Regions from separate parts of the Homo sapiens genome. Here region 1 is linked to region 2. The links come from fine-mapping of genetic effects on gene expression. Tissue or cell type: thyroid. Region 2 holds a variant in brackets; the other region holds the start of a gene. All regions are shown on one strand. Distances are between the middles of the regions.

Region 1 (8,178 bases), 160 kb before region 2:
AGAGAACAACCCACCCCCGCCGACCACAGCAGAACACAGCGAGCAGTGGGCTCACATCCCCAGGAGGACAGCGAGGCTGCCACCTGACTGCAGTACGTGCCTGGGTCCGCACCCTGGTCAGCCGCCCCTCCTCTCTGGGTAACGCCCCTTTTTCTATTGCCCTCCTCCGACACCCTGGGTGCCCCGCCATGCAGGATGCCCCTTCTATGGGTCAGGCCTCTGAAGCAGTCCCAGGACTGGTGGCTTGGTGTGGGGTGAGAGCCGAGGACTCCCTCAAGGGTTACACCATTGCCATCCCCTGCGTTTTTGGGTAGGAGTTAAGGTGATGGTGTGATTCCTTAATAGACTTATTTAGGTTTCAAAATCTAAACTCCTGTCAGTTCTGGCTAGTAATCAAAACCAGCCCATCAACAACAACAACAAAATCGTCAATCCGTAGCGTGTGTTGCGATCCAGAGCAGAGCTTTCTGTTCCCTAGCAACCGAATTCAGGCTGCGCTCACCCCCCATCCTCAATTTCCATCTTGGTCTCTCTCTCCAGGCCTCTGGAAACAAGGCCGGGATGGGGCTGGACCAGGCACCTGCCCTTGCCTTCGGGCTGCCCGGGGGTGGTGTCTTTGTAATTACCTCAAGGTTGCTGTCCCAGGGAGACCCCATCTCTTCAATCTGATCTCGGACCCCACACCTCCCCCCTGCCTCCCCACTCCTCAGGTCCGTCTACTTGTAACCTGGGGTGGAGAATTCACCTTTTCTAGCGTCACCATTTTCAGACTCTCCACCATTCTAGACTCCAAGTCATAAGCACCAAGGGCTCCCCTTCCATTCCCTTTTTCTGGAAATATTCAGCATGTAATGAACCAGGCACTGCTCTCCCATAGCCCAAGGTTCCCCGCCATAGCCCTAATGTTGCGAGCACAAAAACCTCAGTGTCTGAGTTCCTGGATACAGCAGGCCGGGTACCGCACTGCACCCCTTCTCCTCTGCTTGGGAGCCCTCCCCAGCCACCCCATTGTCACCACAGCCCCTGTCCTTTGGCAAGAAGCCTCCAATATACCCTCCCAAAGTCAAGGTAGACTGCATCTCTCTTCAAACCATATTTTTTAAAGAAAGAAAATTACTATAAACCAAATTATTGGGAGGGCAACCAGCATTTCAAAAATGAATTAGGATACAATAGAAAACATCAGAGTATTTTTGGGGTAAATATTGCTTCGGAAAGTTTCACTCCAAGCATGTTTGTGCATGCGTGTGTGCATGTGTGTTAAAGCATGTGTGTGCATGTATGTGCGTGTGTGTGGATGTGTGTGCCTGTGTGTTCACGTGCGTGTGTGTGTTCATGTATGTGCATATATGTGTGCATGTGTGTGTGTGTTTGTCCTAAGGATGGACCAAAAGGGCCTGGAAACCAGTCTCCTGGAAGCCTTCCCTGGCACACACCTTGCTGTGTTCTAGAGTGTGATTTTAGGGTAAATGCTCCTCTCTTGTGCTCCAAGAGTGCTCTCCTCTCCCTCCCATCGTGACGCTTGCCACACTGCACTGGAATTGTTTGTTTCCTTGTCTGTTTCTCAAACTGACTGTCACTTTCCAGGGGGACAGAAAATCTATGTCTTGTTGGCTTCCCCAGTCCCAGTGCCTGGCCCAAGTAGTTGCTCAATAAACAGAGGTTGAATGAAGGAATGTCTGGCACAGGAGTTCGGGATGGACAGGATGAATTGGAATCTGTAACATTTTAAAAGCCACATCCTTTTTAGCAGGAAAAAAGGCTTCAATGAAAGGAATGAAATTGTAAGGGTGGAGACCTGGGCATCAATGGCTGACTCCACAGAATCCCATTGAGGGAGCCCCTCCCTGCCAGGGTCCCAGGCCCACCCTGCACATCCAGAGGCAAGAGGTACGTCCCTCATGGCCACCCCAAAGTTGTCAGGAGCCCCAACTTCTGCAGAATCACCTCCCTGCCAGGAAAGAGAGCGGGGAGAAGCTGCAGTTGAGAAGATACTAAACAGGAAAGTCAGCGTTTTAATTAAACAGGATTCAAAATTGATGGGAGAAAACAAGCATGGACACAATCATATTAACACAAGAATCCCGTCAGAGCCCCTGGCAAGGAAGCTTCAGTGCACAACAACCACTGGGACGGGGGTTAGAGGACTCGCAGTGAGAGGCTGCCTTTCTTTGCTCAGTTTCTCCTAAAGTGTTGTGTGTGTGTGGATGGGAGAGTGTGTGTGTGTGTGTGTGTGTGTGTGTGTGTGAGAGAGAGAGAGAGAGATTCAAGGAAAATATGTGTGTGTGTGGTGCTGTGTGTGCATTGGGGCATGAATGCTTGCATGCATGAGTTGTGGGTGAGTGTACGGCTGGGGACAGTCCACATCCCTTCACCTCCCTGGACCAGGCCTCAAGATGAAGGGATGATGCTTCTTCTCCCTGGTTGCTCAATCTGACTTGCAGGCCCTCTACTGGCTCCTCAGAAAAGGGTCTCCAGCGCCAAAAGAATCTCCTGGGGTGCTCAAGCCCCCAGCCCTATGCAGGATGGAGAATATCTTGTGAGTTCCAGAGGAGGGGTTCTATTAGTCGTGTGCACGAACCTGCAGGAAGGCAGAGCTTGGGGTGGTGCTGTGGCAGCTACCGGCAGGGGCCAGAGCCTCTCCAGGCAGCAGGGCCATCTGGACATCCTGGACTGGGGAGCGTATCTCCTGGGCTGTAGAGGGAGGTGCAGAGGGGACATGACTAGGAGGGTTGGAGATGGGGAAAGTGTCCTTGTGTCCTTACAAGGCTCATTTTCCCCCCATCCTTTGCTTGTTATAGGAGTGAACCTGTCTTGCAGATGATCGTTGACTATGCAGGTAAAATAGATTGCGATCATTGTCATCCTGCTCAGAAAACCCACCTGGATAGGACCAGTCCTGGGACTGGGAGCCCGGAGACGCCACTGAGAGCCGGTCCTGCAGGGACTCCAGGGAGATGAACCAGGAGATGGCTCAGCAAGGACCAGGCAGTGGCAGAGGTGCCCGAGTAGAGTGATCGTGGGGCAGAGGACTGAGGGAAAGTGCGTGCCTGTGCCTGGCAGTGCCGCCCCAGGTGGAGGAGGAGCCCTCAGGGTGGTGGGCTTCCGATGAAGGGTGACTCTGCTGGGGTCTGAGGCTGTGCTCCCAGTGGACTCAGGGACCCCACTGCACAAGCCCGATTTTGGGTAACAGGGCACACCTAGGGAACAGGCCCAGAGCACCCTCTCCTTGGAATAAACTCCGGATCCAAGTCCCAGAACCCACCTTAGGAGGCGTCTGCCGCCCCCGCCCCCTCCCCAGCCTTCCAGGCCCTGGCTGCGGTGGATGGGGGCGCGGAAGGCCCAAGTGCGCGAACTTCACCTGGCCCGGCCGTCCTCCCCGTGGGGGGCCCAGGCTGCGGGCGCGTCAGGCCGTCTCTGTCGCCATCCGGAGGAGCGGCTTGGGCGCCGCGTCCCCTCTGCCAGGCCCGGGTCGGCGGGCGGCTGGAGCCCCCAGCGGTGGCGGGCGCGCGCCTCTCTCGCGGATGCCGGGGCGCGCGTAGCCGGGGCGCGCAGTGACGCCCAGAGCGGGGCCGGCGTCCCCCTGGCGGGCCGGCGCGGGGTCGGCGGGCGCGGGCGCGAGCGCGGGCGGCGCGGGCGCGGCGCGGGGCGCGGTGGGCCGGGGCCCGGGCGCGGCGGCGGCGGCGGCGGAGGATGGCGCGCGCGGGGCCCGCACGTGGAGGCCGGCGCGGGGGCGCGGGCAGGGCCGGCTGCTGAGACGCGCTGCTGCCCCCCGCGCGGGCGCCGCGGCTTCAATGGCGCCATCGCCCAGGACCGGCAGCCGGCAAGATGCGACCGCCCTGCCCAGCATGTCCTCAACTTTCTGGGCGTTCATGATCCTGGCCAGCCTGCTCATCGCCTACTGCAGTGAGTACCGCGCGGCCCCGGCCCCGGCACGGCCCTCTGGGCCCCGGACCCCCTCCTCCGGCCCCGGCAGGCGCCCCGCGGGCCTCCCGGAGTCGGCGCGGAGTTACGAGCGCCGGGCGCATGGTCCCCCGAGTCCCGGCCGGTCCAACGCTGCGCTGGGCGGGCGAGAGGGTCCACCCGGGTTCCGGGCGCTCGAGCACTTCGGGGTCGGACGCCCCGGCCCGAGCCTCCCTTCCCTGACTCCCCGGCAGGGCCCGGGCTCCAGGCCCCGGGTGGCGCGGCCCGTCCCTGCCCGGCGGTCGGAGCCCAGCCAGCGGCTTCCCGGCCGAGATGCGCGCTCAGGAGGCAGCCGCAGGTCGCGGAGGGCGGGCGGCGCTGCCGGGGTGTCTGCGGAGCGCCCTCCCCGTGCCTCAGCCCGGGACAAGGGGGGAGGCGGCGGCCGAGCCCGGAGAGGAGCTCTTCAGGCAGGAGCCCAGCCTGGGCTCGGAGGAGCAGCTGGAGCTTCCGCTTTCCCGGGAAACGGGCTCGTCAGGCGCCTTCTGGAAAGAGAAGCGAAGTGAGGGATGGGATGCCCGGAGGGGGCTCGCCGCGGCCGCGGACGTTTCTCGGGTCGTGTCTGGGGCCCGAGCTGGTGACCGGCGGGACTGGCGCGGGCGCGGGCTGGGGTGGTGCGGGCCAGTGGGCGCCCGGGCGTGAGCTGAGGGCTGGGGTAGGGGGTGACCGCCGCGGGCTCCCTGTTGCCTGGAGTGAAGGGTGGGGGGTGGCCTGTGCCCCTGCCGAGGCTCCAGGCGGGTGGAATGAGGGGTGGTTGGAGTCCCGGGTGCAGACTCCAGCCTCGGCGCTGGGGAGGGTGCTCAGCATCCCGGGGCACGTTCGCGGCTGGTGGGGTAAGTGGGGGCCGCTCAGCGTCCCGGGCACAGGCTCTGGCCCCAGATGGCGCGGGCTGGTCGGCTTCAGCTCCGGGAGCTCCGGGCTTCTTGTCTTCAGCGGGAGAATAGGACGGGTGCTGGGGAGCACCTGTCATGGAGAATTGCCATGGGCGCGGGAGGTGATGGAAAAATATGGATTCTTTACAAAAAAAAAAAAAAAAGGCCAGCACCGAACCTCCCTCCACAGACACCACCTCCTCCAGAGCCCCGGGCCTCCAAGCTCCCAGTCCGATCTGATCCTTCCGCTGTCGCCAAAATGAGAGCACAGTGGCCCAGGGAGACCCGGGCAGCCGCGGGATCGGCCTCCGGAGTCCTGGGACAGCCCAGCTCGCCAGGATCGCAAGGGAAACCCGGGGACCAGAGCAGGAATTTTCCTACTTGCTTCAGCGCGGTTATGCATTTCCCTAGAAATGCTGTGGCACCGAGCGGGGAGGGGTCGCCAAGCCTGGGGGTCTCAACCCGAGCTGCCCAGGCAGACGAGGCCACCGTGGGTGCGCCGGCGCCCCTGGGAACTCACTGGCTGGCCGCCTGCAGGGAGCAGGGTCTGGGGGTTTGAGCGACATTTGTGCCTGCCCCCGAGTTTTCCGCGGCCGTCACGGGGCCTGCAGGGGTATGTGGGGGGATTCCCTAGAAGATCCCCAAGCAAGGCTTCCTAGGAGATGTAGAAAGGGTTAATGGCAGGTAAACTCTGTGCGGAAGAGGAGGCATTTGAATGCACTTCCTGGTGGCATCACCCCAGAGGAGAGGAGAGAGAGGAGAGGAGAGGGAGAGGGGGCTCATTCAGCAGTGTTTGGGGAGGGGCTGTAGTGCCCTGAGCCCACTACAGGCGGCCCATCCCTGGCTGGCTGCTAGAACCCAGGACAACACCTCACCCCCAACCCCCAGCAGCTCAGCAGGTGTGGAAAAGAACAACTGCTAATTGTTGCGAAGTACTTGACACCAGGGCCCTGTGGCTTCAACACCGCACTTCCCGAGCCCGCGAGGAGCGCGGTACACACTGTCTCAAGACACGCAGCGTCAGCCCTCTCCCACCCTGCGCTGCATCCTGAATCCTAAGGTGTCAGCACGTTGTTCATCCGGACGGGCTCACACCTTCCTGAGACTGTCGCCTGCTCTGCCGAGTGGAGTCCTGGTGTCCCAGCACAGACATCTGAGCCTGCTGCTTAGACACGCTGAGGATGGGAGATCTGGTTTCCACACTCATCCCTCCTCCTTAGGAGGCCTCCCCAGCGTTCTGGAAACAGCCTTTCGCCAGGACAAGGACAATTGGTAAGAAGGTCTTACCAGAGTAGCAGAAATAATTAATAACAGAAGCTTGGGTGAAGCACATTTTTTATGGCTGTTTCCATCTCCATGTAATGGAATAATTGACAATAAGAGACACACCCCATTACACCAGAAATGTACTTGGAGAAATTAAAACATTTCACTAAAATACAAAATAGACATAATAATAATTTATAGCTTGGAACTGCAGTCCTAGAGAAAAAAAATCCCCCCCCCTTTTTTCAGAACCGATAAAGCAAATTAAATGCAAATTAAACAGTTCCTAGGATTTTCATTCTTTCTTCCAATAGATCTGGGATGAAGAAGAATAGTTCGTATTCTCGTTTGTAAATTGTTTTTGTCATCAGTAAGGATTTTTATTACTCAAAATGTCTTTGTGTTATGAAGCAGATATATTTGTATCATATTAATTAGGGAAACTGATAAGTATCATACAGCGTTCAATTATCCTGCCTATTAAATCTGTGTGTTTCTCTGCAACACATAAGGTGCTGGCTTCCTAGTGCAGCTAGGAGGAAACTGGATTCTTTCTTGGCCTGGTTTTCTGTTGGGGGGATTCTACTGTTCTTGGCCCAGTGAGAGTCCGGCCTTCTTTCTTTCTCGTGTGCTGGGATCCATATAGAAGGAGATGGGCTCCACCGTCTGGCCGGAGAAAGACCTGCAGTCCACCAATTAGGCTAGTTGCTATAGTGACACAGCCTTGTCATTTTCTCCTCCTGGGGAAGAAGTGCCAGGAGACGCAAACAGGGGAAAGGGGCCCTGGATGGCTCACTTTAAAATGCATGCTCGGTGGTCTGCGACCATCACGGTGACAGCAGGCTTGGTTTCCTCCGCGGCCGGTGCTGCCCATGAGGGTTGTTGGATGGTTGGTAATAAGTTGACTTGCATGATGATGAGCTTTGATGGGGAAGTTGAAGCTCTTCTCCATTCTGGTCTGAGGAAACCTCTCTGGGTGTGGCTTAAAAAGAGTTGATATAGGTTGTTTTCCCCTTAGCGTATTTGGAGTAGAGAAGTCTGTCTGCCTAGATGTGGTTCTTGCCTAGATGTGGAATGGGACCTCTTGACCCAGCTAGAGCTGGTTGAGGGTGTTCTGTGCCCGCCGCTGAAGATGTGATCTTTCCACCCTGGCATCTAGGATAGAACAGCAGCAAGGGAGAGAAGCAAATGAGGACCTGGGGCAACTCCCTATGACACCTAAGCACTGACTCGGTCCTTGTGTGCAGCGTTGAAATCAAAGGTGAAGGACACTCTGCACTAGCCTAGATTCCATGTGCCCTATTCAGCACGAGCAGGTGGATGGTGGGGACCCAGACTATATTTCAGCGTACCAGGGAGAGTGAGGAAGACAGACAGGTTCACTATGTGCTGGACATGGAAATTTCCAAATAAATCCCGTCAATATTGAGCTGTACCTTCCAGTTAAATCTCATGTCCTCATCTATAACTATGAGAAGAAATTACAAACAACTTTGGAATTGTTTTGAATCCATTAGAATCCTAACTGAGCGTAGGCACTGTAGTGTTGCATTTCCTTTATAAATACAATTTATTGCATATTTAGGAGCGATTAGAATATGTTACTTTCCTGCTGTTCAAATTTTGTTCTGGAGTTCTCGAAGAGGTAAAATGGAAAACAGTGGAGGCTTAATGAAGTGGTGCCGTTCAGAAGTTTATTTCTCATCTTTTTTTGAAAAAATTCTCACTGTGTTTTTATTTGATGAATTTGGGGCACAAGAAGATGGGATGTTTGTTTTTTTTCAGCTCCATAAATATAAATTATCTGTCTCTGGGATTTCTTTTAGCCGACATCCATGCCCTAGGCTCAGTGAGGAAGAGGCAGGTTTGTCCCCTCACAGGATTTTCCCACGCAGGGACCCCTGGGGGAAGGGACTTCCGAAGGGACCCCTGGGGGAAGGGACTTCCCAGCGGCTCTAGACAGTGCCCTGGAGAGCCGCATTTACTCCTGGTGATCCTGGCGGTGCCCCACTGTCCCCTCCCACCTTCCACCCCTGCTCTTTCACTGAGATAGGGCCAGAAGGGGGGTCTCCACTCTTCC
Region 2 (8,178 bases):
CATGTCCCTGCCTGTACAGGGCAGGGCTGTGAGCCTGTGCACCTGCATGCGAGATCCAACTTACGGAACCATCAGTGAAAGATTCAAACACAAACCAGCCACGCACTGTGGCGCTTTCCATCCTTACACACAGTATCAGCCACCGAGCCTCCCCTCCCCCAGGGCTGCCCTCTGAGGCAGGCACCCAGGTGCGTGATGCCCTGGCGGGCTGGCCAGGCCCTGCTTCTGCTCCTTTCTAGCTGTTTATGCAGACGCGCCAGGTTCCCTTTTCCATCAGCACACACGTGCTGGGTCCCGCAGCCACCACAGCACGGCACTGAGGACTGAGACCCTGTGTCCGAGTCCAGCGCTCACCCAGCCCTTGCCAGGCATGCAGTACCTGGCTGTACCTGGCCAGCCCGCCTCGCTGAAGCAAGGTCTTCCTTTATGAAGAGAGGTGCTGTCTCCCACAAGTTGAGTTCTCCTGAAACTCCTTTCCCAGGAAATCAAAGACTGCAGCCCAGTAGCGGGGGCAGCAGAGGGTGGTGGTTTGTGAGCGGAACTGCCCCAGAGCTGAGCCAGAGGGGTGAAGGGTGGTAGCCTCAAGTCTCGGTCGTGGGCGGGGGCAGTTTTCCCTGGGAGCTTTTGGAGGATGGTAAACTGCAGTCATGGCACAGCGCAGACCCATTGTCAGGGCCGCAGTGGCCACTGGGAGGTGCAGGACAGGCCGGGCTGACTGCCAGGTCTGGGGAGGCTGTGCCCAGGAAGGGGCAGGGCCAGAGGGCCTGGAGGTGGGTGTTGGGTGGAGCCTTATATTCTCCAGGCATGAGGCCTTGCGAGCCACCTGGGTCCTGGGCTGGGAAAAGAGGCAGAAAACAGGCAGGTGGGCACTGCCGGGTTCTGGGCAGAGGTATGGTGGCCAGAGTCTTTGCTTCTCTGTGGTTGGGAGTTTGAGGCAGGCGTGGGACAGCAGAGGCCTTGCCCGCTCTCAGGCAGTGTGGATGGTTGGCAGTAGACGCGCAGCCTTAGGCGGGTGGACGCTGAGGCCGTGGGTTTGGCATCTGTGCTTCACGTGTGGTTTAGAGTCCAGGTGTGAAGAAGAAGGGGCACCACGAGGGGGATCTGTGGTCAGCGTCACCTTCCACCCCACGTCCACAGCCCTGTCCTCATCCTCCAGCAGCAGGTCGGTGCGGGAGGGTGGAGGGTGCCCTGGCCACGTACAGGAGTCTGGAGATGGTCCTGTCCTTGCTGTGGGGATGGGGACCACACTGATGGCAGGGCCATTGGACCCTGGGCTGTGGGTCCTGGCAGTGACTGCAGGAGCCAGGGTAGGAGGGAAGTCACTTCTTCTCTTGCCTTTCCCCGTTGTTGACCGTCATCATGCCTAGCTGCTCATGATGCCCTAGCAATGTGGGGTTTAATTACAGGAGTGCAGGAGCAAAAGCCTTTCGGTTCTGAGAGGCTGGGCACAGCGCGTCATCTCCACCTCGAGGCGCCAACGGGGCCCCCAGGGCCAGCTGAAGGCATGTTGTGGCTGGGACTAGGGTGACGGGAATTTTCCACCAGGAGCGACGTGAATCACCTGCTCTATTGTACGCAAGAGACTGGGAGTGCGCCAAGGTCCCTAAGATGCGGTGTCTGTGGCCGAGTCAGCCTGCATCTACCAGTTGGTGCTCAGCCTGGCCAGGGGTTGGCCCCAGGGTGGCAGCTGGAGAGGCTGTGGCTGGCCCTGCCTGCCCCGTTCATCCCTTCGGCAAGTGGTGGTTGGGATAAGGAAGGCCCTGCTTCCCTACAGTTGTTCATACAACATGGGGACATCTGTTTGACCACAGAGCTCACAGGAGACCGCCTGCTGGCAGTTGGCTGTTCATGGGCAGCCCTTCCTGCGTTGAGCCCTGACCACCCTTGGCAGCCTGGCACCCCGCACTGGCCACCCAGCGCCATCCAGGAGGGGGTCTGGGCCCTCACCAAATCATCGAGGCCCTGATCTGAGGAAGGATAATGAAGCTGTTTTTCAGAGGGGCCCAGACCCCCACGTGGAGCACCGGCTTTGCTCTGGGCTGTTTACTGGGCACCCGCTCCCCTAACAACCTTCCTGAGAAAAGGACTCATGTTCCAGGTACCTTCCAGTACGCGACGGAGACCAGCTGGGTACCTGCCTGCCTCAGGAGGCACCCTCTCCACTGCTTAGGGGCATGGACATGTCGGCTTCCTTCTGGGGGCTCAGGGAGATCCCAGCATTTCTGGAGGCTTCCCGAGGCCATGGGCGACTGGGTGTACAGCCACATCCTCAGCCAGGTTGTGGGTCCTGGCCACCCTGGACCCCTCATGGCTTGGGGTCCGTGCTTTGTGGCACAGAAGCTGTGGGTGCTGGTGTGGCCCTCTGCTTGGCAGGCATTGCCAGCCACTGCATCACGCGACCGTGGTGGGGCTGTCAGGACACATACATCTCCGCGCAGACTGCTGCCACCCGCGGCCTTTTTGTTATGGAACCACTGCTGGGAGAGGGTGGCGTGTTATAAACGCTTGGCAAGCGGAGAGGCGCCTGGGGGCTGTTGGCGACACTTTCTTCCCCAGCACACCCCTCCGTTCCATTCTGCCTGGATCCAGATGGGGTTGGAGATGCCCTGGGATGCGGGCACCATGTCCCTCAGTTCTGAGCATGATTGGTTTGTGAGGAAGATGGTGGGAAGAGACCCTGCCCCCGGTTCCCTAGGACGTGGATGTGAATTGCTTCAGTCCAGAGGATGCAGCCACTTCAGGCCCAGCAGGTGGGCAGGGCAGGGCAGGTGTGTCTGCTGTTGGAGCCACAACTCACAGTGCCCTGGCCAGGGCCACTGTGGTGAAGTTGTTTCAGGGAGGAGCTGACTGCCCGGCCCGACCCATGGCTGTGGCGTGAGGGTACAATGGCAACTGTGCTAAAGGCCAAGCACTTTGCTTCATCAGAGCCCAGTTTTACCAGAAGGGAGCAAGCCAGTCCTTCTCCAGCAAGTTACCCAGCAGTTCCTTCCAGATCTCGGTGCGTTTAATTGTTGGAAAACCACACAGTAGCTGCATGGCTCTCTGACGCCTCTGTAGAGAGATGAGACGGTTGGAGCCAGGGTGTTCTGCTGCTGAGAACATGAAGTTCCTTGAATGTCCCCCTCTGTGAAGCGCCCCCACTCCCAGCTCCAGGGAGCACAGCTCAGGGTGAAGGAGAGGAGACCCCAGCATTCACGGGCACTACGTGAGCGTCACCAGATGGCAGCTGGGGTTGGTAGATAAGTTGCTGATTTTTGAGGTGCTGTGGGGAGTCTCAGGTTGGGAGCACACTGGGAGGTGGCTGAGCAAACATGGGTGCCCGAGCCTCTCCGTGTCCCGTCACGTAGGCACGGCGGCTCTGGAGGGAAGGGGGTGGTCTCCTTGCTCTAGCCTCTCCATGTCCCGTCACGTCGGCACGGTGGCTCTGCAGGGAGGGTCCTGTCCCGTCACGTTGGCGCCGCGGCTCTGGAGGGAAGAGGGCGGTCACCTGGCTCTGCTCCCTCCCTTTCATAAGGGAGGCTCTTTCCCAGGGCTGTGGACACAGGGCCCCTGTGCTGCCAACCAGGAGAGCCAAGAGGAGGAGGAGGAGGAGGCCAGACACCTGGGCTGGGCCTGACCCTGGGCAGACCACCACCCTCCCCTGGGGCTGGGGCGCTGGTGTCCTGGCCCCCTCGAACTCTTGAAGCCTGCCCGTGGAAGGCCCACTGCACGTGGGATGCATCGTCCACGGGCCTACAGGGTTTGGAAGGAGCACGCCTGCTCCACTCGTGCTCCTGCCTTGAACCCACCGTCACTCCTTCCCATGAGGATGGGGACAGCTTATGCCTGCTCCACAAGGCCCCCACTCCGTGTGATTCGGGGACAGAGAGCTGCAGGGTCCTGGGCAATGGGACCCCAGGCTGTGCTGCCCAGGCACGTCCCATCCCTCGTCCTGTTGGGCCCCTCTGCCAAGTGCAGGCCTCCCGGCACTGACTTTCCCATCCGAATCACTCCCAACAAACTTGGGTGGGGTTTTAATTTTTTTTCGAATTCTGTCATTTTTGAGCCGAATGACTCAAATGACTAATAACTGTCTGGCGTGGAGGAAAAGGAAGGGGAGGGCTGGGAGGAGCTCCTGTGTGAATTTGACCTTGATCCAGCACCCACTCTGCAGCCTCCCAGGCAGAAGGCCCCTGATGGAAGCTGGGACAGATGTGGGGAGAGCAGGGGCAAGCAGGGAGCAACCTCCTTATCCCCACAGTCATTTCAGGAGCACTGAGGGCTGGGAGGAGGGGCCGTGGTGGGGCAGCCTAGGCCTATGGGGTCTGCGGGCCCAGAGCTGAGTCAGGCAGCGTGTGGTGGATCTGGTAGTAGCTGGATGCATCAGTGTGGCAATCCAGGAAGGCTTCCTGGAGGAAATGGGCACTGTGTTTAAAGGGGAGGCCACACCCATCTGTCATTGTGTACTGGGCATGGTTGTCATCCAGGATGCCCCAGGGTCCTTCAGCAGCAGGCATGAGTGGGGGTCCACTCCACATCCAGCCCTGCCC[A/G]GACCCCCTGGCTGCTCCTGGAGCAAACCGTGTCTGAAGGGGCTGGCAGGATGCAGAGTGGACAGCAGCCCTCACTCTTCTGCGGGAAAAGCTTTTGTGTGCTTCAGTCATTAGAAAAGTGAATGTAAGTCCTTAAGTACTTGGATATTTCTGTCTTGGTCCACTTTGTGATGTTGAGACTGGGTAATTTGTAAAGAAAAGAAATTTATTTTACACTGTTCTGGGGGCTGGGAAGTCCAAAATCAAGGCACTAGCGTGTTCAGTTGTGTGGTGAGGGCTGCATTCTCCAGAGAGGCAGAACGCTCCATCCTCACGTGGTGGAAGGTGGAAGGGCAGAAGGGGGCCAGGCTCCCGCAGTCAAGTCCTTTTACAGCATTATCTCTCCAGGATGGTGGAGCTTTCATGACCTGAACATCGGTCAAAGTGCCCATCTCCCAACACTGCTGCATTGGGGGTTAAGTTTCCAACACGTGAATTTAGGGAACACTTTTAGACCACGGCAATTTAGAAATACGTGAATGTTCTTAACGCAGCTGTGGCCTCAAGCAGGTCCCCTGAGCGCTCTGAGCTGTGGGCAGAGAAGCAGAGGAGGGACAGTGTGGTTGAAGGCACGGTCCTGCCTGGCTTCCTGAAGCCAAACACTGATTCTTTTTTTTTTTTTTTTTTTTTTTTTTTGAGACAGAGTCTCGCTCTGTTACCCAGGCTGGAGTGCAGTGGCGCGATCTCAGCTCACTGCAACCTCCGCCTCCCAGGTTCAAGCAATTCTCTGCCTCAGCCTCCCGAGTAGCAGGGATTACAGGCGCCTGCCACTACACCCGGCTAATTTTTTTTTTGTATTTTTAGTAGAGATGGGGTTTCATCATGTTGGCCAGGCTGGTGTTGAACTCCTGACCTCCTGATCCATCTGCCTCGGTCTCCCAAAGAGCTGCAATTACAGGTGTGAGCCACCACGCCCGGCCGACGCTGATTCTTTTTCAGGGTGTTGCTTGCTCTCTAGAGTCTGCTAGAACCACCCTTGTGGTATACTGGAACTGGCTTGCACCAGATTGCGAGAACCATGGGTTAAATTTTCAGGAAATGTGTGAATTGACTTGTAATACTCCCATTATTAAAAACGAAATTACCATCCTGGCCAACATGGTGAAGCCCCGTCTCTACTAAAAAATACAAAAAATGAGCTGGCTGTGGTGGCAGGTGCCTGTAGTCTTAGCTACTTGGGAGGCTGAGGCAGGAGAATTGCTTGAACCCGGGAGGCGGAGGTTGCAGTGAGCCGAGATCGCGTCACTGAACTCCAGCCTGGTGACAGAGCGAGACTCCATCTCAAAAAAAAAAGAAACAATGAAATTATATAAACTGACCTGTAGATAAATTATACTGAAACCAAAAATATCCACGTGAACACACTAAAAAAAGAAGAGTAAACAATATCTACATCAAGTGGAAGAAAGACAATAATAAAGATCAAAATGGGAATAAAGTAGAATATAGAAAAATAATGAAAATTACCAAAAGTTCTTTTTTTTTTTTTTTTTGAGATGGAGTCTCATTTTTTTTTCTTTTGAGATGGAGTCTCTTTTTTTTTTTTTTTTTTTTTTTTTTGAAGATGGAGTCTCACTCTGTTGCCCAGGCTAGAGTGCAGTGGTGTGATCTCAGCTCTCTGCAACCTCTGCCCTCCCGGGTTCAAGCAGTTCTCTTGCCTCAGCCTCCCAAATAGCTGGGATTACAGGCTTGCACTGCCATGCCCAGCTATTTTTTTTCTTCTATTTATAGTAGAGATGGGGTTTCACTGTGTTGGTGAGTCTGGTCTCAAACTCATGGCCTCAAGTGATCTGCCTGCCTTGGCCTCCCAAAGTTCTGGGATTACAGGTGTGAGCCACTGCCCACCCAGCAGGTTAGTTCTTTCAAAGATAAATGAAATTGACAAATCTCTAGCTAGGCTGATATGAGGGAGTAGAGAGGGATAGAGAAGAAGGAAAGTGAAGGAAGGCTGAAATTACCACATCATAAATAAAAGGGGACATTAGTACCCACCATATGAAATAAAAAGGTTAAAGGGATACTATGAACAATTGTATGCCAATACAGTAGATAGTTTAGATGAAATAAACGCATTCCTAGAAAGACACAAACTTCCAGAACTAACTCTAGAGGAAACAAACAGTTTGAATAGACCTATGTTAAGTAAAAACAAGGAATGAGTTATCAAAACTTCCCAACAAGAAAAGCCCAGGACCAGATGGCTTCACTGGTGAATTGGTCCAAACGCTTAAAGAAAAATTAACACTGGATCTTCTAAAGCTCTTCCAAAAAATAGAAGAATAGGGGCCACTTCTTAACTCACTCTATGAGGTTGGTATTGCCCTAATACCAAAGTATCAGACATCACAAGAAAACTACAGATCTATGGATACGGACATAGATGTCACTTTGGGTTTCGTGCATTCCCACAGTACGCCTCATCCCTGAGGCACGTGTCTCTCCTGCAGCACCACCGTGATGGGGACAGTGACATCCATGCCTGCATCTCCAGCACAGACCTGTGCCCTGAGTATGTAAAGGCGCTCTGTGAATGTCAGTGGGTCCTGATGCCTCCAAATGCCTGGTTGAAGCAGGTTTTCAGGGAGACCCGATGATGAACAAAGCCAGTGAACCAGCAGGCCTGAGCTGGGAGCAGAGAGGGAAGGATGGGGGACGCTGCCGCTCTTGAACCTGAGTGATGCCTTCCAGGTTCTTGATGGTGTTTAAAGTGTCCACTACACCCTGCTAATAATGCCGCTTGCCTCATCTTACATATGTTAATCAGCATCTGAGAATAATCAGCGTCTACAAGAAGAAATATCTTTGAAAAATCTTTGAGGAAATTCTCTCCAGGAAGCCGAGAGCTGAGGGGGCCCAGCATGTGGTGCTGGCGCGGGCCCTGATTGCGGCCATTAGCAGGGACATTCGTGACGTTTCAGGGAAGGGTGCATGGGGTCTGCCTGATGCCAGAGGACCTTGAGCTGCTCCCGTCCACTTCCACCTCCGAAACTCAGCCCCACAAACACTCCTGAGGGCAGGGTGGGTGGGGGAGCAGCGAGGTCTTACGACTGCTGCGTTCCTATTATGGCCCATCTGGGGATTCCGGGGCTCTTCTGAGGAGGACAGAGGCAGGTCCCTTGTCCCGAGCCTGCAGCGTTGCTTGTCCATGGCAGACGCCAGATGGATGTGCACAGCCCATGGGCGCTCAGTTCCGCAGCTCCCTGCCTCTCTGGGTGGAGTCTAAATATGGGTTATTTTTCAGCATCCTGAAAGCCACGCTGCATCTTGCGTGAGTGACGGAGCACCGTGACAGTTGATGCGGCCGGCAGGTTCAGGGCTGGCCTGTCCCAGCTCCTTCCTGAAGGTTATATGGATCACCCCATTCATTGTACAAACACCCACCCAGGGCAGTACTGCTGTCACCTCCTGTTAAAAGCAGGGAAGCTGAGCCCCACAAAGGGTGGAGCTGGCCCCAAGCCCACAGCTGGAGAGTGGGGGCACTGGGTCTTCAGTGCTGCAGAGAACGTCTCTCTTCTGTCCTGGAAATGCCCCTGCTGGCCCAGACCTAGGGCGTCGACGTGTAGAGAGAGAAAGGACCAGGCCTGTGGCCACAGTGTGGCCTCTTGGGCTC

Evidence for each region. PIP is the estimated chance that this variant, and not a neighbour inherited with it, causes the effect.
Region 1: it holds the start of TAFA5, and the variant in region 2 is fine-mapped to the expression of TAFA5 in thyroid (GTEx, PIP 0.98).

The regions. Positions count from the first base shown.
Region 1 is chr22:48,485,799-48,493,976 of GRCh38, forward strand. TAFA5 (TAFA chemokine like family member 5) reads left to right here and starts at 3,755. Exons shown (of 4, transcript NM_001082967.3): 1 at 3,755-3,906. The coding sequence starts at 3,795. RefSeq lists an enhancer at 5,833-6,338.
Region 2 is chr22:48,650,654-48,658,831 of GRCh38, forward strand. The region is part of intron 2 of TAFA5 (TAFA chemokine like family member 5); the gene reads left to right. Among named protein-coding and RNA genes, the nearest start is that of MIR4535, 130 kb to the right of the region's middle. The variant A/G (reference allele first, on the strand shown) is at 4,530.